3 linked regions of the Homo sapiens genome follow. The protein of the gene in region 2 purifies or fractionates together with the protein of the main gene of each other region. This does not show direct contact. Each region holds a gene or a part of one and is shown on either strand. Other genes may lie near its edges. The genes, in order: EIF4A1, IBTK and RPP25L.

The links.
Region 1: the proteins of IBTK (region 2) and EIF4A1 purify together in Homo sapiens (co-immunoprecipitation; 5 studies listed by BioGRID and IntAct, with this or other methods). This does not show direct contact.
Region 3: the proteins of IBTK (region 2) and RPP25L purify together in Homo sapiens (co-immunoprecipitation; 3 studies listed by BioGRID and IntAct, with this or other methods). This does not show direct contact.

The regions. Positions count from the first base shown.
Region 1 is NC_000017.11:7,568,077-7,576,253, reverse strand, and holds the start of EIF4A1 (eukaryotic initiation factor 4A-I), read right to left. Parts: upstream 3,430-8,177; 5' UTR 3,413-3,429; coding exon 3,390-3,412; intron 1,995-3,389; coding exon 1,946-1,994; intron 1,709-1,945; coding exon 1,576-1,708; intron 1,542-1,575; exon of another isoform or gene 1,407-1,541; intron 1,136-1,406; coding exon 996-1,135; intron 1-995. Other genes in the region: SENP3 (sentrin-specific protease 3), read right to left, coding at 4,771-4,881, 5,321-5,371, 5,490-5,573, 5,761-5,898. UniProt on the Homo sapiens protein: ATP-dependent RNA helicase which is a subunit of the eIF4F complex involved in cap recognition and is required for mRNA binding to ribosome.
Region 2 is NC_000006.12:82,195,650-82,203,078, forward strand, and holds part of IBTK (inhibitor of Bruton tyrosine kinase), read right to left. Parts: intron 6,997-7,429; coding exon 6,879-6,996; intron 5,834-6,878; coding exon 5,773-5,833; intron 5,060-5,772; coding exon 4,938-5,059; intron 4,605-4,937; coding exon 4,492-4,604; intron 798-4,491; coding exon 649-797; intron 1-648. UniProt on the Homo sapiens protein: Acts as an inhibitor of BTK tyrosine kinase activity, thereby playing a role in B-cell development. Down-regulates BTK kinase activity, leading to interference with BTK-mediated calcium mobilization and NF-kappa-B-driven transcription.
Region 3 is NC_000009.12:34,609,566-34,616,317, reverse strand, and holds RPP25L (ribonuclease P protein subunit p25-like protein), read left to right. Parts: upstream 1-4,220; 5' UTR 4,221-4,254; exon of another isoform or gene 4,255-4,458; intron 4,459-4,985; 5' UTR 4,986-5,021; coding exon 5,022-5,513; 3' UTR 5,514-5,823; downstream 5,824-6,752. Other genes in the region: DCTN3 (dynactin subunit 3), read left to right, coding at 205-288, 1,550-1,608, 2,217-2,276, 2,447-2,536. UniProt on the Homo sapiens protein: May be a component of ribonuclease P or MRP.

The sequences.
Region 1 (8,177 bases), on a different chromosome or scaffold from region 2:
TCTAGATATTTAGAACCCTTAACCTTCTGAAAACTAATTTGACCAACTGCCTCATCACGCAGCAACCATTTTTTTTTTCTTTTTTTGAGACAGAGCTTTGCTCGTTGCCCAGGCTGGAGTGCAATGGCACAATCTCAGCTCACTGCAACCTCCACCTCCTGGGTTAAATTCTCCTGCCTGAGCTTCCCGAGTAGCTGGGATAAAAGGCACACGCCACCATGCCTGGCTAATTTTTGTATTTTTAGTAGAAGCGGGGTTTCACTATGTTGGCCAGGCTGGTCTCCAACTCCTGATCTCAAGAGATCTGCCTGCCTTGGCCTCCCAAAGTGTTGGGATTATACGAGTTGAGCCACCACACCCAGCCAGCAACCAGTTTTATAGAACAGGTGATGCATATCCATGTCCTATTGCACTCCTGCCATAGGACCCAAGCTACGAGGCATGTTCACTCTGAGAAAACTGAGAGCCAAGTGCCTTAGAATGGAGCTCTGCTGTAACTTCTTACATTATCCACACCCAGAATAATCACTGCCCCTGCCACAGAACATTTAAAAACATGCTCTGACATCAGTGTTGCAGCATGACCCAGGAAAAAGTCCAGCATTAGAATTGTGTGTGCCCCAGGCATGAAACAGCTCTGGCTATTAAGCAAGGGTGAAAAGGACTGTCCATCTGCTCTGACTACTGTAAGATCACCCCCACACCAAGGGATCTCTTAGCCCATAGTGAAGGTGCTTATTCAGAACACAGTCAAACTTGCCCAGCCAGCCAGGCTTCACCCAACAGCTTTCCCATTTGACTCAGGAAATGGGTGGAGGAAGCAATGGTTACGTTTGGGTAAGAAATAGCTTTTAATTAACCCAGCAGGTCTCGAGAGTGTTAGGGCACCCATGTCTTCCTCCCAAGGTGGTGATCAGAGAAGACTTCTCTGGTCCTTGGATTATACTCATCATCCCTAAATCAGCCCTGAAGGAGGGAATAGAAGCCACTCTTACCTGCTGAGCCAATTCTCGAGTGGGTGCTAGGACCAAGGCCTGGGTGGCTTTTAGATCTAATTCAATCTGCTGCAGAATCGATATGGCAAATGTGGCCGTTTTCCCAGTCCCAGATTGGGCTTGAGCAATCACATCATAACCTAAACAAATAAATTAGGAGTTGAATGTGGTAAAGAGCATACCCTTTGGGATATTCAAGTCCTAGGTTAATGAGGTCAATAAGCAACCAATGAACCAAGCATTTCATGGCTCACAAACTACCTTCCCAATCAACACAGTTACACAATGGGAACCAGATCAGAAACAAGGACCAGTTATTAACTCATCTAGTATTGCACACCAAGCTGGACTAGAAACATGGCTGTAGATGCAAATATAAGCTGGCTACAATACCACCTCTTTAAAGGAAACCTATGTGTCCAAGGCATGAACCAGGCATGGGCACGGATCAAAAGCCAAGCTGGGATGAACAAGGAGTTGCTTTGTCCCTGGCTGATATGAGATGGGCATCACCAACCAGATGCCACTCTACCCAGGTCAGGGACAGTCCACAATGTCTTCTGGGACTGAGAGGTCTCACCCTTGATACAAGGTAGAATGGCTCGCTGCTGGATGGCAGAGGGCTTCTCAAAACCATACGCGTAGATGCCACGGAGAAGGGACTCCGAGAGGTTCATGTCATCAAAGCTGTCAACAATCTCATTCCAGTTACTCTAGGGGATGCAAAGAAATTAAAGCTTGAGTCATGGAAAAGGTGGAGCTGAGCTGTAGTCTCCGAGCAAACAGAATCTGGTGCCTACTAACAAAAGCCTCAGAGCTTACAACCCTCCTCCCTTTAGGGAAACCAGCTGCTTCTAGATGATCTGGGAAATCAATCAAGAGGCCACTCTAACTCTATACGGCTGAAAGTTGTAATGGGGGAGGACAGAATTCCATTTCTCCAGTCTCACCTCGATGACGCCTTCGGGCTCCATCCCATCGGGGCCATTGTCTCTGGATCTGTTGGTTTAAAGCATAAGTTTTGTCCCCTGCCCGACCGAAGCACTCAGAAATCCTGACAGCCGGGCTCTGTCAGGAGTGGCCTGCATGATGCCATCAATCTGCTGTCCCAGATCCAACTCCCACCAGCTCCCAAAAAATACCCAAAGGAGGAGTTTCTATAAAACTGAGGCATTTGCCCCATGCAGGCAGCGGCTCAGGCCAGGCCACCCCCGACATAAGGGGGTGACCCTTTCTGAAGACAGGCCGGCAGGCGTGCCGCCGCGCTCACGGTGCCCAGAGGTGGTGCTTGCCGCCGGGTCCACGTGGGCCCGACCCAGCCGCTTAAAGCCCAAGCGCGTGCACCTCCCACCGCAGCACCAGCGCGCTGGAAGTCCCGCCCTTCACCTCCCAGATCGGAGGGTAGGACATCCCCTTCCCCCCACGTCATCCCGCCCGCGCCCTCCCCCACTCCCTCCAGCCGAAGCCCCCCCCTCGCGTTGCCCGGATGTGGGAGGCCGCGGGCGGTGGCGGCCTCGCGCACAATGAGCCCAAGCCGAGCTAGCAAAGGGGGAGATTGCACAACACTTAGAAGCGAAGCAGACTGGGGGAGGGGAACGCCTCAGGCCACCATGTGCTCGCTCCCTCGACCACCCGGCGGCGTCTCCCACCCCTCCATGAACAATCCACATCCCGCCCGCCCCCGTCGCGAAGTAGCGTCGCCCTCCCATACCTCAGGCCGCTCACCCCCGAAGGAAGGTGGACCTGCCCATCCGCAGTTTGCCAATAGCCCGGCTTGTGCGGCAAAATGGACCCGCCCGCCCGGCGCCGGGTGGGCTCCTGGTGCCTCACGCGGCCGCTCCTCGGGGTTAGGCTCAGTCCTGGCCGTCAAGAAAACCAGCACACTGAACGGCCGGTTTCTTCTCCCCGACCCGTGTTTTAGCCGCGACGAAGTGACTGGATCTAAGGACCAGGCACCCCCGCCTCTCGCGAGTGGTACCGTCAGAATGCTCCGGAACCCCGCGCGCCGTCCCTCCCCCGGCACAGGGAGGCAACCGGACCTGCCGGCTCTGGGCCACACATAGTGGCGGCCGCCTCCACCTTTCTTTCCCACGCCAGGTCGCGACCCCGTCTCGCCACTCAGCGCCGGGGCTTCGCGCATGGCACCGCCTCGGGTCGAGGCCTCGTAACAGACCTCGCACGCCTGACCCTAGCCGGGCTGTCCCTACCCTCCGCCTCGACCTGGTGGCCGCGTCGGCCGTGGGTCTTCCCCCTCGCCCCTCCAAGTCGGACCCTCCCCCCACCCGGTTCGGTTTCTCCCGCAACCCTGGTGGGCCTCTCAGCTACCCCCGGCGGGCCCGTCGGAAGGGGGCGGCAAAATAAGCAGCCACAATCTCTTGCAAATGCCTTTCTTACCGGGAATCCTGGCTCGCAGACATGATCCTTAGAAACTAGGGCGGAGTGCCCGCCTATCGACAACTTATAGAGCGCCCGACTCCGCCCCGGCCATCGCATTGGTTTGGCCGCCCCGGCCCCGCCTGCCGGCGCTCAGCAACTCGGCATGACGTTAGTTCCTAGTCGCTCCGGCCCGCAGGCACCATTGGATAACTCGAGTGCCTATCAAGGTGAAGGCCCGCCCCGCAGCCTCATTGGCTGGAGGGCCCGCCTTTCTCGCCGGTACGGAAGTGACATAGAAGAGTCAGGCCTCGAGGCCTGGCAGCCATCTTGGGGCCCTGCACTCTCACACGTGCGGAGGCGACAGTGCCTTGGTCATGTGGCTCCGTAGGCCCTATCACGCAAGGGGGGCGAGGTCTCAGCCTCCAGAGGCTTCCGGGCTCTGGGGGTTATCACTTCCCTTTACTTCTGCTCCCGGTCTCCACTGGACTCAAATGTTATTTGTTTTCCCCTGTAGCAGAGATGGATTCGACACTGCCTGGACGTGTGCCAGGGATGAAGGAATCAACAGCGATATCGTAGGGATGGGAGGATTCCCCTGGCTGGATGGTGGAGGGATGGAAGAAAACTGTAAAGGGCTTTGGGGTACTATCATGAATCCTGGTTGGTCCCCTCCCCAGTCCCTTGTGTCCAGTTCCCCAGCTTCCCTCTCGGATGCCCTTATTCTTGAGGCTTATCTACTTTCCCTCCTTCCTGCTCTCTGCTCCCATCTCGGGGATTTGTTTGGGTGAAGACAAGGTGTTGGCAGTGCCTGAGCCAGGGATGGAAAGCTGAACCCTTTAGTCTCAAGAGACTGGCTGGAAGGTCTGAGCTAAGCATATCCACTAATTTGAAGCCCCTTAAGGAAGACCACCACTTACGTATCAACAAAGGATCCTTTATTGACCAGAGCAGGACCGTGGCATTTATATATTTTTATATATATATATATATATATATATATATATATATATATATATATATATATATATATATATATATATATATAAAAGTTTGAAGATCTGGCAGGCAGTGATCCTATTGTCCGCCCACCACCCCCAGCACTGATTTCCTGCTCCCTGCACGGGGAAGGGGGAGGATGACTGCTCCACCCAGGCCACAGGGCCACACTCCCCTGCAAACAGAGGAAGAAAGGGGCTTTTCTGTAGCCACCCCCTGCACATCAGAAATCAACAAGTATTCTCTCAAAGAAAAAAAAATACAGAAATTGAAACATTTAAATATGAAAAACCAAAGGGAAGTGAGTGGGAAGAGGCAAGAGAGGAAAGGAACTGGAGTTTCTTGGGAAGGGACTCCCATGTCTCCCTTCCCATTTATGGGCTTGGGGTCTGGGGTACGAGGCTCACACAGTGAGTTTGCAGTGACACAGCTCCTTGTAGATCTGCCGACGAAGTTTGGGCATGTCCTGCTGGGTGAAGCTGAATGGCTGAGACAGGGCCAGATGCTTGCAGTACTGGGTGTTAACAAAGCAAGCCATGAGAAACCCCCCGTGTCAGGACCTGTGCTACACATTTCATATGAGATGTGTCTCCATCCTTCAGAGAACATCCCCAAAGGGAGCCAGGGTCCCACAGCCTGGGGTTCAAAAACAGCCTGACTCTAAAGCTAGTGTTCTTACTTGATAGAATGTTTTAGATGGAGAAAATACACTGAGTTGGAGGTTAGCAGGGAGCTCTATGAAGGCCAGAGGCCCAAGACTAGAGACCCAGTCCCAATGTGGGATGGAGAAGTCCAGAAGAGAACCAGTGAAGCCAGTGTTTTGGTGTTCTAAAACAGATTACTTCCTGCTCCACAACTGACTATGAGCCAAATGAGGGGATGCATAACAGCCTCCCGACCCTTTAACCCAACTGACTTCAGAGCTAGGGGAGGTGGCCCCATCATCTGCTTACCTGCAACACAAAAGCACCACAGTCACTGTCATTATTCTGCCTGGCCACATTCTAGAGAAGAGAAAGAAAGCAGGCCCTTCACATGGAGACTCCCAGGGGTAGGACTTCAATTTCTGCCTTCTACCACTGTCCCCACCAACACCCTATACCCCTCCCTCAGGAAACTCACCATTTTGAAGTAACCTTTCCAGCCCTGGTGGAAATCCAGTCGGTCTTTCTTTACCGCCTCTGCCTGTAGATACTTGGCAATATGCTATGTGGATGGGGGAAAAGAAAGTGATGCCCTAAGTTTCTCAATTGAACACAGTATGGTGGGTACAGTGCTGGCAGACACCATGCCCAGGTCGCCCCTCAAAGACCCAAAGCCCACCCTTCTTCCTGCAATGCCTTGCCACTGCACCGCCCCACATTTTGCCCATCTCTCTCCTACCCCCTCAAACCTTAGGGCAGCGGCGGTTTAGGGTACGCTGCGAGTCAAAATAGGTGATGGTGCGTCGCCTCACATCAACAGAGATGAGGGACCAATGCACCTCCAGGTGGATGGGGATTAGCAGTAGCTCCTTATTGAAGATGTCCACCTAAAGAGATAGTGCCACAGGTCAGGTACAACAAACAGAAGTCTTGCCTTTTGCCATGAAGGTTCTAGAGAGGAACAGAGACACAGGTAAGGGAACCAAGTGAAAGAACAGAAGACCCAAGGCCTAGATTGTGGGCAAGCTCAGGATCTGCATGTTTCGGTTCTTCGGGGTAAGGGAGGAAGGTCAGACAATGGAGGAGACATCAGAACGAACACTGGAGAACCCATGATGGGCAGGCGCTTTTCACACTTTAAAGGGAGAAGCACTTAGCAGCTAAGAACCCAGGCCCAGGATTCTGGAGCCTGCCAGAATTCAAATACAGCTCCTCCATTTACTGGCTTATGACAGTGGGCAACCTACTTAATAACCTTCTATACCTCAGTTTCCTTATCTGTCAGAGAGTGTAAATAGTAGTACCTACACCTCATCCATTTGATATGAGGATTAAACTAGTGACTATCCATAATACACTTAGAACAAGACACAGCACAAAGTAAACACGCAGTTAATGCTCATAACAATCCTACCGGGAAGTTCTCAACATTCAACCTAACAGATGAGGAAATTGCAGCTTGGAAAGTCGTGACTTGCACAAGGTCATGAAAGAAAGAAATGGCAGAAGTGGGACTCAAACTCAGTATGAAGAAGGCCAACATGTTTTTCACTGTACGTCACCACCCTTCCCTCTACTGCAAGAAGATCCCTGAGGGTGTAAGCTCTTGATTTTGAGGACTGAAATTAAGGAATGCCGGAGCCAATCATCCTGCCTAGCTGTAGAAATTTCCTGGCCTTTGAATGGGAGGGCAGGGAAACCAGAAGAGAAAAGAACTCTTCATTTTCCTCCCCCAACCTGTTCCTCTCCCACTTTTCCCGTTACATAGGCCAAAAACCTAGGCATCATCCTCCATTTCTTTTTCTTCATTTCCCACATCCAACCTGCGGAGGAAAAAACAAATCTTTTTTTTTTTTTTGAGACGGAGTCTTGCTCTGTTGCCCAGACTGGAGTGCAGTGGCGTGATCTTGCCTCACTGCAAGCTCCACCTCCTGGGTTCATGCCATTCTCCTGCCTCAGCCTCCCAAGTAGCTTGGACTACAGACACGTGCCACCTCGCCCGGCTAATTTTTTGTATTTTTAGTAGAGACAGGGTTTCACTGTGTTAGCCAGGATGGTCTTGATCTCCTGACCTGGTGATCCGCCCGCCTCAGCCTCCCAAAGGGCTGGGATTACAGGCGTGAGCCACCGCGCCCGGCAAAAAAACAAATCTTCTTTCCTACTATACTCTCACAACACAAAATACTTCTGTAACCTGTGGTCACCAAGAAGTGTTTGTGGGGCTTTCTCTCCACCAACAACCAAGCAAGCAATTTTGCGGTGGACACAGCTGGGTATCCCCCAATTCAATTCCAACACTATCTACCTGGAGATAATGTGTCACAGGTTTAGGGCTCAGTCTCACAAGGCTGCCCCCAATTCTGATGCCAGTCCTAAGCCCCAGGTTGTTTTATCTGTGTTTCTCACCAACTGGTTAGATCAGCGTTCCCATGACCCCCTCCTTGAATTTGATTAATTTGCTAGAGCAGCTCACAGAACTCATGGAAACACATTTACCAGTTTATTAACAAAGGGTAGTACAAAGAGTACAGATGAAAAGATGCACAGGGAAAGGTACCGGGAAGAGGCCTGGAGACCATCCTGTGGGAGCCTCCATGCCTTCAGCTATCTAGAATGTCTCCAAACTCCTCCTCTCGGGTTTTTTTTTCTTTTTTGAGACAGAGTTTCACTCTGTCACCCAGGGTGGAGTGCAGTGGCACAATCTCGGCTCACTGCAACCTCTGCCTCCCGGGTTCAAGCGATTCTCCTGCCTCAGCCTCCCGGGGACTACAGGCGCACGCCACCACGCCCAGCTAATTTTCATATTTTTAGTAGAGACAGGGTTTCGCCAGGTCGGCCAGGCTGGTCTCAATCTCTTGACCTTGCGATCCATCTGCCTCAGCCTCCCAAAGTGCCGGGAGTACAGGCGTGAGCCGCCGCACCCGGCCCCTTTCCGGTTTTTAGAGGCTTCACTACTAGGCATGACTGATTAAATCACTGATCCTCAGTGATTGCCTTAACCTTTGGCCCCATTCCCCTCCCAGGAAGTTGGTGGGGGTGAGGCTGAAAGTTCCAACCCTCTAATCATGAAGCCACCTAGAGGGGCTAGCCATGAATCAACTCATCAGCACACAAAAACACACATCACTGGAGATTCCAAGGATTTTAGAAGTTGAATGCCAGGAGC
Region 2 (7,429 bases):
TTATGAATTCCTAGAAGTTCCGATACGTTTTGTGGATGTGTAGGAGTTACAGAAAAGTGACTCTATCTCTATTCAGTTACACATTTTTCTCTAATAGGTTAACAGCTATGGAATCAAATGTTAAGGAGTGTCTAAGAAATGCCCTCCCCAGAGCTGATTAGGCTAGGAATCCTGCAGCTTAATGTGCTAGATTAGGAGAAGAACTCAAATCATTTCCAAATTGTTTTGCTCCAGTTAATACCCTGGAGGAAAGAGACTGCGAACTTTCAAAGTAGGCTTATTTTCGAAATCATTTGCCTTGACAATTTTTAACTGATGTTAACTGACATTTCACAAGATAAATTTCAATAATTTAGCTACAAATATATTTTTTCAACATGTCTATAGTGTTATTATATTTTACATCAACATTATATTTTAGTTGCACAAAGACTAGAAATAACATCATAAAGGGCTCAAAACTGCCATTACAATCTCTAAAAATAGAAATGTTGTGCAAATTTAAGAAAACTAACACTATATTTGTGATTCTTATATACCAACCTGGAAACTGTTTTAAAATTAGGGCAAAAATAAGGAAATATTAAAGATAAACCATCTATAAATCTAAAATCTGAAGGTAAGGAGGTAGTGCTTCAAAAAACAAACCTCAATCTTATCTGAATGAAATCCTGTTGTGAAATCAGGGGACTGTAAATCTCTAGGACTACCCACTCCTGCATAGCTTCCTTCAGAGTCTGATGTCAACAGTTCTGGAAGAGATTCCACAGAATTGGTCTTACCAGACTTTAATAATCCTAAAACATGAAATTAAAAAAAATTAAACACATATGCATTAAACATATATGCATTACATTCCATGAACCAGAGAGCTAAAAAAGCTTTCATTTATCCAGATTTAATAACATTCAAATTATATTTATGGTATAAAAATCTTAATAATTCAAGTTAACTGGAGAAAGAAATCAGTTTAAGTGAAAAACTGAAATGGAAGAGATTCTAAAACAATAATTTTATTCATTACAATCACACACCAATTGTGTAATGAACCTGAGGAAGATAGTTCTTTGGGATCTGCTCTAAAAAGTGATTTAAAATATTTTTGTCCGCATAAGAGACAAAGGAGAAAGGGAAAATAATTAAAATCCAGACCTCTTTTCCCTTTCTCATCTGTCTCTTGGTACAGTGGTCTCCGCACCCAAGCAAGGGGGTAGCTTCATTCTATGTGGGAGGAACCCTGTGGCCTTTTTGCCTCTCACTTAGCCAGCTGACTGACCCCATAGCAGAGGCTCCCGCAGAAGACAACTGTGGCCTGTTTGAAGTGTGTTTTTCCCTGAAATCTCTGGCTATTGAGAGCTCGCTTGAAGCAAGAGGGTTGTTGTGAAATGTATATATCATTTCTTCTCTTAGGCAAGCTAAATGCCTGGCCTCATGCCACACCTGGTATCCAGGTTCAAACTTTTGCTTAGATTCACATGTCCATTTCCACACATTTCAAATTTATTAGAATCTAAATGAAGTACCAAAATAAGCTATAAAATAAAGATGTTATCTAACTTGTAACTAAAAGCTGTATAATTGATTTAAAAATAAAACCTACCATCTCTTATACATTGTTCTCTTTAAAGTAAATCACCTTAACAAGCTAAATGTTTCTTTTATTGTTATCACTACAATTTGGAAAGAACATTTAAACATTTTTTTTGCCACACAATCTTTTTGAATTTTTTTTTTTTTTTGAGACAGAGTCTTACTCTATTGCCCAGGCTGGAGTGCGGTGGCATGATCTCAGCTCACTGCAACCTCCACCTCCAGGTTCAAGTGTTTCTCCTGCCTCAGCCTTCCAAGTAGCTAGGATTACAGGCATGCACCACCATGCCCGGCTAATTTTTTTTGTATTTTTACTAGAGACAGCGTTTCACCATATTGGCCAGGCTGGTCTGGAGCTCCTGATTTTGTGGTCCGCCCGCCTTGGCCTCCCAAAGTGCTGGGATTACAGGCAGGAGCCACTGCGTCTTGCCTCTTTTTGAATATTTTTAAGGCTGGCAAATTTTCATCGAAGAGAATACATCTAATATTAGAACACTCTCAAAAGTCAGTTAGAAATAAATCCAGAAAAAAAGAGGACAATTAATGTGGCCAACAATTACTTCTGGTCAAAAACAGTTTTGCTGAATGCCGTTTGTCTAACTTTAAGATCGACACAGATGTTAAGCTTTTACGCAACTGTCTTTGATGAAATTGGCCTCATACTCAAATTTTCTTCCTTAACAGGTCTTTTTGGCCTCCAATTAAATCTGACCTTTTAGTTATCTTTGACTACAGATATCCTGGCCACAGAAAGAACAGTACACCAGGAAAATACGGACCTGGAATCAAGAGAACAAATTTTATTTCTTTTGGTCACTACTTCAAATCACTTATGTTTTTTGAGCTTCTTTCCTTAGGTTTAAAGTAAGGGACATAAATTATTTCATTACTAATGTCTCTTCTAGCTCTGAAATTCTAAGATTCTAACACATATGGTAACAATAACATTATTTAAAACAAACCAAATATCTGCTTTTCCATAAGTCATTTAGGTGACTGGAAAGTCATTACTTTCAAGACTGTCTATCCATTATTCATCCTTCCATCAATCCACCCCTGCCTCCTTCTAAACACTAACGGTAATTCATACAACACAGAGAACACAGAGTCACAGAATTTTAAATTTAGAAAAGTCCTAAGATAATAGCTTTCCCATTTACTAGGTCTCCTGATTCCTATTTTCATTGCTTCATAAATAAATTTTAGGCATATTATCTATCCTTTTTTTATCTTTATGTTATCTAAAACTATTCTTGACATTATTCCTTTGAGCTTTAGTGAACATATCAAGCACCTAATTTGAAGCATCTCAGTAAACATAAAAAAAAAATCCTTCTTCTTTGCCCTGCCTAACAAGCTTTTTTTTCCAAAGGGACACAAAACAATGTACTCTTCTATTTTTCAAAGTTGTTTGTATACAGCTGATTGACTATGAAGTACTGTTAGCAGAAACTGTACTAGGTTATGCCTTAGTGCTATAGACAAGAGTAACCTACCATTTCTGAAAGCCATACTGTAGTCTCATTATTTTATAGTCACAATTCATGTTTTATCTAAAGAAACTACTAAAACGTATATAGTTTAATCTAGATCAGATGAATCTAGAATGTGAGACAGTCTATAACACAATTGGACTGACCTTTTGGAAAAGAGAAAACAAAAAACAAAAAAGTACAGCAGTTTTATACTAGTTAGAAGAGACTAAAGAGATACTAATAAGCAAAGATAATATGAACCTTGATAGAATACTAGTTTTTTTGTTAATGTTAAAAAAAAAAGACTATAAAAACATTTGTCAACAATTAGGAAAATGTGGATATGAAGTATAATACTAATTAACACTAATTAATGTCAATTGTCTCAGGTATGATAATGGTATTGTGGTTGTGTAGAAGAGTATTCCCATCTTAAAAGATTCATATTCAAGTATTCGGGGGAAAAGTATCATGTCTACAACTTATTCCAAGTGGAACAATTTTTTTTTAAGTCTCTGTATTGTGTGTGTGTGTGTTTGTGTGTGTGTGTAACACATGGAGGAAAGAGGAGACAGTAAGCAACAAAGAGTCTGCAAGAAAATGCAAATGTGATGAGAAGTTAACAATAAATCTGAATAAAATGTACATAGGTGTTCATGGTATTTTTCTTTCATCTTTTCAGTAAGTTAAATATTCTCAAAAGAAAAAACTGGGGAAAAATATTTTAGAAAAACTACATAACCTGACCTTTACTTTCAAACAGGCTCACATAATGCCTAAATACATTTTATATTCTACTACCAGATTACAACCCCCTTATGCATATGAATGGCATCTTACTTGGAGTACTGACATATTTAAATTGAATCAACATGATAATAGTTATCTCTGTCATGTTTTGCCAACCTCTAAACCCCTATGCCACTGGAAAGAGTAGTCTTTCTAAAAACAAATCTCATCCAGTCACATCCTGTTTTAAATCATCAACAGCCACCCATAGCCTTTAGAATAAAACACAAATTCCTTAGTTTGGCATATAAGAGCCTCCAAAATCTGACCCTATCCAACCTATCTCCTATACTGAACTATATGCACAAGAAATGTGCAACTCTTTCTCTTGCTACTAAGCTTGGGAACACATTGCCCCCTTTGCTTAATATACCTATCTGCCTCCTTTTCTTAGATAACTTCATTCTTCAAGACTCAGCTCAGCATTGCTTTCCTCTAAGAGGACTTCCCTGATCTCAGATTAGTTTGAGTACCTCTTTTGTGCTCCCAGAGCAAACTTCAACTGGAGTACTTACAATAAACTATCACTTTTGGTACCTCCATAAGGACTGTTTATTTCAGTAGCCCCAGCAGATGACATATGTGAATAGAGACATAGAAGATTAGAACTGGAAATACATGCTCACTTTCCACGAACCTGTAGATGATGGACTCTGAATAATATCTGAAAGGTTATAACCTCCAGAACTATCTGAACGTTTACGTGGCTTCTTTTTAGCTTTTGTTTTTGCTTTCTTGAACATAGTTTCCCTAGGAAAAAGCAAACATAATTTCAGCAGTGTTTAGGGAGGTAACTAAGATAAATGCACTTATTTAACCCAACATGTTTAACCTGAAGGCTACTTTTTAAAATATTTACACTTTCAATGTGTTAGACCTACAGATATTAATTATGTATTTACTTTGTATTATACCAAGGTTAAGAATGAGCGTAACTACCTATTTCTTATGTCAGAATTTCTCAATTTCATCTTCCAATACCAACACAAAAGTGTCATATGTCCAAGATGAGAGTGAAGGGACACACTGGAGAAAAGAAGGAAGAAAAGGAGGAAAAGAAAAAAAAAAAAGAAAACAGCTTACGAATGATTTTGTTCCATATTTATTTCTTCTTTCAAGAAGATATCTCCATCTTCTACTTCCAAATAGCTAATATCTGGTCCATCTTGATATGGTGTAATGACTCTTCTATCCATTGCTGGAATCTGCAGAATTGAAGATATCACTTTTCAAATACAAAATCTGTGAAGTTTTTTTTTTTTTTTTTTTTTTTTTTTTGTGCACACGTGGCTCTTGCCATGTTGGCCAGGCTGTTTGGAACACCTGGCCCCAAGCAAACCTCCCATCTTGGCCTCCCAAAATGCTAGGATTACAGGCATAAGCCACCACACCCAGCCTAAAGATGTTTTTTAAATTATGTAAGATATTCCATTTTTAATATGTGGTGACATTAACTAGAACAGCCTTGAATACTCAATAACTTCCTAAATTTACAAGAGGGGGTTAAATTTTGATTCAATTCAATAAAAACTTTATTCCATAAACCTGCCAAAAAGGAAACTTGAGAAAAAGCTCCACTTTATTATTAAAGATAGATTTATTCATTTCTTAGGGATCATATGAATTCATGTTTTTGCACGGTCCTGACCTCTGGTAAATAACAAAAGACTTACTCTGAGGCTTTCAGTAACTTTCATTTATAAAGAAATTAATAAATATTAACTTTATTATTAAGTATCTTGAATTCTGATTATCATATGTATCTGTGAGATCTGTAAAGGAATCCTATATCATCAGTTTTAAAAGATCCTAATGTACTAGAAGTCATTAGGAAACTATTCCATTAATAAGTCTGATCTAATATACTGCTTAAGCTGGTAATATTATAGCCGCGAAAATCTTAAAACATAAACCTTACCATTTTCCGGTAAAACTCAGAAAGATCCTTCAAAACACCATCGCTTAAAACATCAAGAGACCTAAAATATAGGATACAAAATTCTATCTTAAGATTCAAGTGACTTGATAACTGTCAAGTTGCTTACATACGTAGATATTTCATATTGCTAGATAAGTAACAAAGTTATTTTTTAAGCATTATATATAGCAGTTGCTACAAATTCCTTTTGGAAATAGATGTGGTTGTATATTACATATTTCAAATAAACAGCAAAGCAAACATATTACACAAATATCTTGAATAAAACTCAAGCAACTCTTTTTTTTTTTCTTTTTTTGAGATGGAGTCTCACTCTGTCACCCAGGCTGGAGTGCAGTGGTGCAATCTCAGCTCACTGCAACTGCTGCCTCCTGGGTTCAAGTGATTCTCCTGCTTCACACCCTCCCAAGTGGCTGAGACTACCAGGCACACACAATCACGCTCGGCTAATTTTTGTATTTTTATTAGAGATAGGGTTTCACCATCTTGGCCAGGCCGGTCTTGAACTCCTGACCTCAGGCGATCCACCTGCCTCAGCCTCCCAAAGTGCTGGGATTACAAGCATAAGCCACCACACCCGGCCTCAAGCAACTATTATAAATAAATGTACAAAGAATCTTCTCTACTTCATAAGAGTTTCATAAAAATTAACTAAATGAATCTATGTAATGCTTTTAGAACACCGTCTAGCACATAGTTAATAGTCATTACTACTGAAGTAAAATATAAAAATAAACTAAACAATGAAGCTTTAAAATAAAAACTGACACCAGGAACTCTAATCTCAAATTTCTGTGTTCTCATATTGTCACCAATGACTTTATAGGAAGTAAAATATTTTGACCTTATATTTTTAAAAAAGTATACATTTATTTCATTTTAAAAAGATCACTGTTAAAAACATTCAAAAGTTTTCAAGAGCTCTCTAATTCTAAAATGTACATAACTTCTAAATCATCAGCATTGATCAAATTCTTTCCATCCAGGTAAACATCATTATTCACATTTAAATCACTAATAATATCTGCTATTATATATAAATATCTCCTTTTGCAACAATCTTACAACATATGCACCTCACCTACCTTGCTTCAAGTAAAGCTGCCATATTCAATCCTATAAACTGTAAACAAGACAGTTTCAACTGTTTTGCACTATACATTGCTGCAAATTCCAGTAGCATAGCAGCATTCTTCAGGGTAACTACAAAGAAAGAAAAGATTTGCAAAATTAGATAAAAGGCACATTACCACAGCAAAATAAAATACATTTATGTCTAAAGCTGTACGATTTGAACATTTGGAATAAAGAAAAAAAAGTTTCTTGCCAAAAATAAGTTAATACTGGGGCAAATATGTAACTCTTCCATCCCAATATGCCAAAGTAATTTCAAAAGATTGGCTATGAGGAAAAATAAGCTCACACACAAGCATATTCTAAGCAAAACAGAATACAGAAGGGGCATAGTGCCACCCAAAAGCAAACACATAAGAACTGACAATCTTCCACCTAACATTTTCTGAATATTTTTAAAAAGCTTTTATTAATGAACAACTTTCCTTTCCATTTACATAGCAGTTATTCCCTCTTCCATAAAACTAAAAAAGATATAAAACTAAGAAAAACTGATGAAATA
Region 3 (6,752 bases), on a different chromosome or scaffold from region 2:
TCAGATGGGTCAGACCTGAGGCATCCAGGAGAGTTGGGGGCAGGATGGAAATGTGCACCTAGAGAAGGGGGCAGTGGACAGAGTCACTGTCCAAAGCTCTAGGACCTAGCCATCTCCCTTGCCAGGTCCTCAGGCCCTTACATGGGCTGATTAGCAATGCCCAGGTTTGCTTCACTGCAACTATCTTGTCCATTTTTGCTTTAGAGGAGCAGTTTATCCTTTCCCAGGTTGCACTCCTGGAGCAGGTGAATGCCTTGGTGCCCATGCTGGACAGTGCTCACATCAAAGGTATCTCTCTGGGGTTATAGCTTCACTACTCTGGTTGGGGAGGTAGGTGGATGGATGGGCAAGACTTTCCTGTGTTTCAGGTTGTGTGGATTCGGGTTGGGTCTGTTCCTTATCTTTTTTTTTTTTTTTTGGACAGAGTCGTACTCTGTCACCCAGGCTGGAGTGCAGTGGCATGATCTTGACTCACTGCAACCGCTGCCTCCTGGTTCAAACAAACTTCCCACCTTGCCTCCCAAGTAGCTAGGATTACAGGTGTGTGCCACCACACCTGGCTATTTTTAGTAGAGACGGGGTTTCACCATGTTGTCCAGGCTGGTCTCAAACTCCTGGCCCCATGTGATCCACCTGCCTCGGCCTCTCAGAGTGCTGGGATTACAGGCGTGAGCTACTGTGCCTGGCCTGTTCCTTATCTTTATCCTCACCCTGAGGTACTTGCCACATCCACCAATTAAAATTACCAGGATAGAGAGCCCAGTTTTAGGACCTCAGGCAATTTGGGCCTGAGAACACTAGCCTAAGCTCTAGCAGTCCCCAGCTCTGGGGATTCCTTCTGCCTTCTACCTACCCCCAAGCATCTCTTCTTCAAGGTGCTGCAGAACCCAGATTTTACTATCAGAGTCTCTGCCAGGTCCATGAATGTATGTGAATTCTTTCTGCTGCACTGCTGAGAGCAGTCCCTGGGCCTGGACTTTGACAAGCAGATAGTGGCTTTAATTGAATCCAGATATCCATCTTGTCTGTCTGTGGAGGTATTTTTCCCAGCTCCCCCTCCCTACCCCTGATCAGCTGCCCGCTGAGTATCTGACAGCCTTAAGCTTTGAGCCCAGCATGGTGGCCAAGCCTTGGCGTGTTGGATTCCAGCTTAGGGACCTGGCATCCATCTTCAGACTCCCTGTTCCCTAAGCCAGGCAGACCTGCCCCCGCTGGGCTGAGAGCAAAGGGACAGGTCCTATAATAGCCAAAGCTCTCTTTACCTGGTCCTGCTTATAGCACTGGGGTGGGGGTAGGGAGCAACACTGGGAACCCCAAGGTTTTGTCTTCTCCTCGGGACATGTATCTTCCCCTCCCCTATGGGTCCTGGAGTAAGACTGGAGTGGGCAGGGAGCCCCACTGCCACCTCCAGCTGCAGCAGTCGATGAAGTCTGGCGTTTGTTTAGCTTCTCCACTCAATACTCTAATCCTGCCAAAGACCTAATAGACTATTGAGCAGTCCCGGGGGAGGGCACAAGCATCATCCAGCAGTGTGTGTTGTGTTTTACAGCCGTTCCTGAGCATGCTGCCCGCCTGCAGCGCTTGGCCCAGATCCACATTCAGCAGCAGGTATGGGAGGGGAGATGACTAGAAGCGAAGATGGAGGTGGCGCAGCACCTCATCCCAACTCATGCCACCTGGGGAAGCAGCTTCAGGCCTTTCTGTTGTAACCTCAGCAGAAACTTTGGGGTTTATCCTTTATCTTGCATATGCCCCAGGGAGGTAAAGGGACTTGCCTAGGTTCATGTACAAACTTTCTGCTTCCAGAGCAGGACTTTATTGGGACACCATAAGGTTGAGGCTGGGAGGTACCCAAGAATTCCTGGGGATGGTATGTCATTGACTGTGGGTAGAGGGGCTCTTTTTTCACTATTCCCAGGCCCTAGTGTAAAGTTCAAAGAGAGTTCAGAAATAAGGACAGAAGAAGAGACATACACTAGGGGGAATGTTTACTTAATGTATGGCCACTCCCTTTTCCATCCGTCTTTGGACTGCTGTTAGGGCACCCATCCTGGAGCCTGAAAGTGCTCCCATAGCCATTTGCTCCTTTGGCTTTGGGGTTAAGCGTCATCTTTTTTAGGCTCCATGGGGAGTGGGAGTCCGTGATGAGGCAGGAAGTTTAGTGGAAGATGTGGGCTTTGCCCAGTTCCTTTCTGTGCTACACTTTGGCCCTACAGGACCAGTGTGTGGAAATCACTGAGGAGTCCAAGGCTCTCCTGGAGGAATACAACAAGACTGTATCCTTTCTGCTCAACTAGGACCCTAATGGGTGCTGTCCCTAAGCCCTGTCCTTTTGTTCCACCTCTAGCTCTCTCTCATCCTATCCTACCCACCTATGTTTGCCTGTTCCCCACTTTCCATGAACTTCCTCACTCAGATTCCTATTCTCACCTTGACCTACAACCAGACAATGCTTCTCTCCAAGCAATTCGTGCAGTGGGATGAGCTACTTTGCCAGCTAGAGGCCGCCACGCAAGTGAAGCCAGCAGAGGAGTGATAGCTGCTCCCCATCCCAAAGTGGGCCTGGGCAGTCAGGCTCCAGGGCCCTATGCCAACCTGCCTTTGTTACAAGGCAGAGGAAGCTTTGTATTTATTGGCTTCAAGGCCCACCTCTCTGTACTCTGGGCTCTAAAGTTGGAGGTCAGGTTACCTGAGGTTTGCAATTTGCAACACCCACCCTCCCCCCAATCAGTGTTCTTATTTCAGTGACAATAAACCATAGAGATGACTGGAGGAGTGTGCTGGCTTCTTGGTCTAGGATGGAGGTGGTAGGGGGCAGAGGTGTCAGCCTGCCTAATCGTTTGACTGGGAACTAAACTCATCCTGGTCTGGCTTTCTGGCAGGTGTAGAGCTCTCAAAATGAAGGCTCTCATTTGATTATGTGAATAGGATATTCCTTTATGTATCCATTTATCCCACATTTACCAATAAGAGACCTCCAAATGTCAGATGATGGGAGTAGATAGGGCTAATCCCTGCCCTGCACGGGCTAGCAGGATAGACAGTAAAGGAAAAGGGCAGTCCTATCAGGTGGACACAGAAGAAAAAAGGGACTGAAGGGACCTGGTAAGTGATATCCAGGGACTTTCAGAGCCAAGGGAGCAGCATGTGCAAAGGCCTTTAAATTTCTCTCTTGGGAGCCTACCTGCTGCCACGAGCCGAGAAGGGCAGCCTAAGAGGTTTGGATGCAGGAAGTTTTGGTCCTGGGGAGGGGAAGTTGGGAAGTAGGGGCGCTGGGGCAAGCATGTTGAGAAACAGATTGGCACCGTAGTCCACCAAATGTTTGCTGCCCCCTTGTGGTCTCAGGGAGTGCTCTGGCTCCAGACCCTTTTTCCAACGGCCCATTGGCCGCCCCGCCTTTGCGACCTCTCCGGCACCTCAAATTCAGCGTGTCCAAACCGATCTGAAACCTGGGAGTCACCCTAGATCGGAATTTCCTACTTCTCCGTCCAAACAGTGGCCAACTCGTCACTGAACCTACTAGTATCTCCCAACTTAATCTTTTTTCCATTCCCACCGCGATTTCTCTGGTTCATTAATGTAACAAATCATTTAACAAATATTGAGCGCCGGTCATACGCCAGGCACCATACTAGGCTCCGTGGGCACCCCCGCCCCCTCAGCCCCCAGACTCCGCGGCAGGTGTCGTCAGGGGCTGTGGCCCGATTTCCCCACCACTCCCTCCTCGGCTCCCTGCACAAGATCTGGTTCGACTGGCCCCTGGAAAACCCGGAAAACCCCCGTGGTCCGCCAGCGCCCACAGGATGAGGTCGAAGCTCAGAAGTCGGTAACTAAGGCTCTCGCCCATGCAACAGCAGCCACTACAAACTGAAGCCTTTGTTCGCACCCACGGTGAAACCCACAGCTCCCCGTTTGCTCAACAGCTAACGCCAGCCCTCCCATCTTCTAAGGGCCAGATCCCCCTCCTTCAGACGCAGGACTTCCCCGACGGCCGCTCCTTTCTACCGCAGGGAACTGTCCTGCCTCCCTCCGGGGCGTAACAGCGGAGGCTGCGCTCGTGTTCCCATCCCCGCTGGGACTGGTCCGGGGCGCTCTGGCCAGCGGGTTGTTTCCGCGGCGGAGATGCCTCGGGGCCCGTCCCTCACGCCCCGCCCCTCACGCCCCGCCCCCTCGGGGCGTGCGCGGCCCCGCGGCCTTAGTGCGCTCCGGGCCCGCGCGCCATCTTGGCTCCGGATCGTGCGTGAGGCGGCTTCGGTGAGAGCCGGAACCGGGCGGGCAGAGGGGCGCTCGTAGGGTTGGGGGACGCCTGTGGCTTGGCTGCAGCGGCCGGCAAGACCCTGGAAGAGACCGTGGCTATGGAAACGGCCAAGGCTGTCTTGGAATGTCCTGAGCAGCCCTCCGAGTCGAGCCTCTGCCCCCGAGTTTCTGAGTGACCTGGGTTGATATAGATTGACCTTGGTAATCTCTGGGAGAGGGGATCCGTTCTGTTTGGGGGCAGCACTGGATAAGGGTTCTTGGCTGTTTCCCGGGGGGCCTGGGGCGAAGGGCCTTGTCCCTGTCCTTGTAGAGCCCCAAGTGAGGAGCGCTCTCTATTGGTATTAGTCTGGGGTGAGGGTTCCAGGCCCTGTTCCAAGGAGCCCAGGATAAGGGGGGCTAAGCCCCAGTCCTGGAGAGTTTAGGATGAGGGGGCCTGGCACTTTCCCAAAGAGCTCAGTGTTTGGGGAATGTGATCCTGCCTCTTGGACTCCAGGATTGGAGGTGGGGGTGTTATGGCCCTTGTAGAGGAACGGGGTGTATGGGGTACAGCCCTTTCCCAGACTGCGGCAGGCATGGACCTTGTCACGAGATGCTAAGGACAAGGGGACATGATCCTGTTTCTGGGAAGTCTGGAACGGGGAGCAGGGCCATATCCTGGATGGAGATAGGGGATGGTGGACAGTGACTTGGGGCACATTGCTTAGCACTTACCTGATGCTTCCCTGCAGTGGGCAGCGAGAGTCACAGACAAGACAGCAAGCAGGATGGAGCACTACCGGAAAGCTGGCTCTGTAGAGCTCCCAGCGCCTTCCCCAATGCCCCAGCTACCTCCTGATACCCTTGAGATGCGGGTCCGAGATGGCAGCAAAATTCGCAACCTGCTGGGGTTGGCTCTGGGTCGGTTGGAGGGCGGCAGTGCTCGGCATGTAGTGTTCTCAGGTTCTGGCAGGGCTGCAGGAAAGGCTGTCAGCTGCGCTGAGATTGTCAAGCGGCGGGTCCCAGGCCTGCACCAGCTCACCAAGCTACGTTTCCTTCAGACTGAGGACAGCTGGGTCCCAGCCTCACCTGACACAGGGCTAGACCCCCTCACAGTGCGCCGCCATGTGCCTGCAGTGTGGGTGCTGCTCAGCCGGGACCCCCTGGACCCCAATGAGTGTGGTTACCAACCCCCAGGAGCACCCCCTGGCCTGGGTTCCATGCCCAGCTCCAGCTGTGGCCCTCGTTCCCGAAGAAGGGCTCGAGACACCCGATCGTGAAGACCTGCTGAGCCAGCCTGTTCTCCGGGCCTGAATGTCTGGGGTGCTTGTGCCTTTTCTGAGAAGCGTTGTGACTGCTCAACATCCCCATCAAGGTTTGAGTCCACAAAAGTGGACCTCCCTATCATGCTTCCCCTTCCCTCTAGCATGTGGGAAGGGACTGCTGTGAAGAATGACAGATGTGGGGCCTCTGCCAAGTTCTGCATTGCTAAATAAGGGCTTCCTCTGCCTTCTACCTACAGTGCATTTGAACTGCCTTCTGAAAGAGGTCCAGGGAGGGATTTAGGAAATAAAGTTTCTACCTATTTGATGAGCCTCTACTCAGCCTGCTATGTGGAGTGGGATTAAAGAAATGGGAGTCCCCGCCCTTACCCCGGGGGGCTGATCGGGTGAAGACAGAGGAAGAGTAGTAGGCTCAGGCCGGTGCTGGGAGAATATAGTGTCTACAAGAAGCCTCAGTCAGTACTGAATATATCTAATTCCCTGGATAGTTATTTGCCCCTGCTTTGGCCTGGTTTAGGAACACTGCCAGGTCAGACATTTCTCTCCATCTGCAGCATACAGTATAGTATAGTGGTTGTGAGCATGGACTCTGGTACCAACCTGCCTGGGTTTCAATCCTGGTCTGCCACTTATTAGCAAGTTACTGCTCTGTGCCTTAGTGGTCTTATCCATAAAACAGGAATACGATAGTGTTTATCACATAGGATTGTTATGAGATTACATAAGGAAATATACATATATGACATTTAGATACCACACTGGCACATAGTGCTATTAAGTGTTAATTGCTATTATCGTTATTAATGACTTACCTATCCCAAATGCAACAACTGTCTCACACCTCCTTCCCTCCAGCTTCCTTGCCCCAATCTCAGCTATGGAGCTGGACTCTGCTTTGAAGAGACAGAGGCCTTTCGAACTCCCTCATGTTCCATCTTCACCTCCAGACCTGTCTGTATACACATTTATCCTCAACTCCACTAGTTTGCAAACATGCTTTTTCCTGTCTTAGAATCATATCTTTGGGTTGGGCACAGTGGCTGATGCCTGTAATCCCAGCACTTTGGGAGGCTGAGGCAGGAGGATTGCTTGATCCCAGGAGTTGGAGACCAGCCTGGGCAACATAGTAGGGAGACCCTGTCTCTACAAAAACATCTAAAAATTAGCTAGGCATAGTGGTGTGCACCTTTAGTCCCAGCTACTTGGGAGGCTGAGGCAAGAGGATCGCTTGAGCCC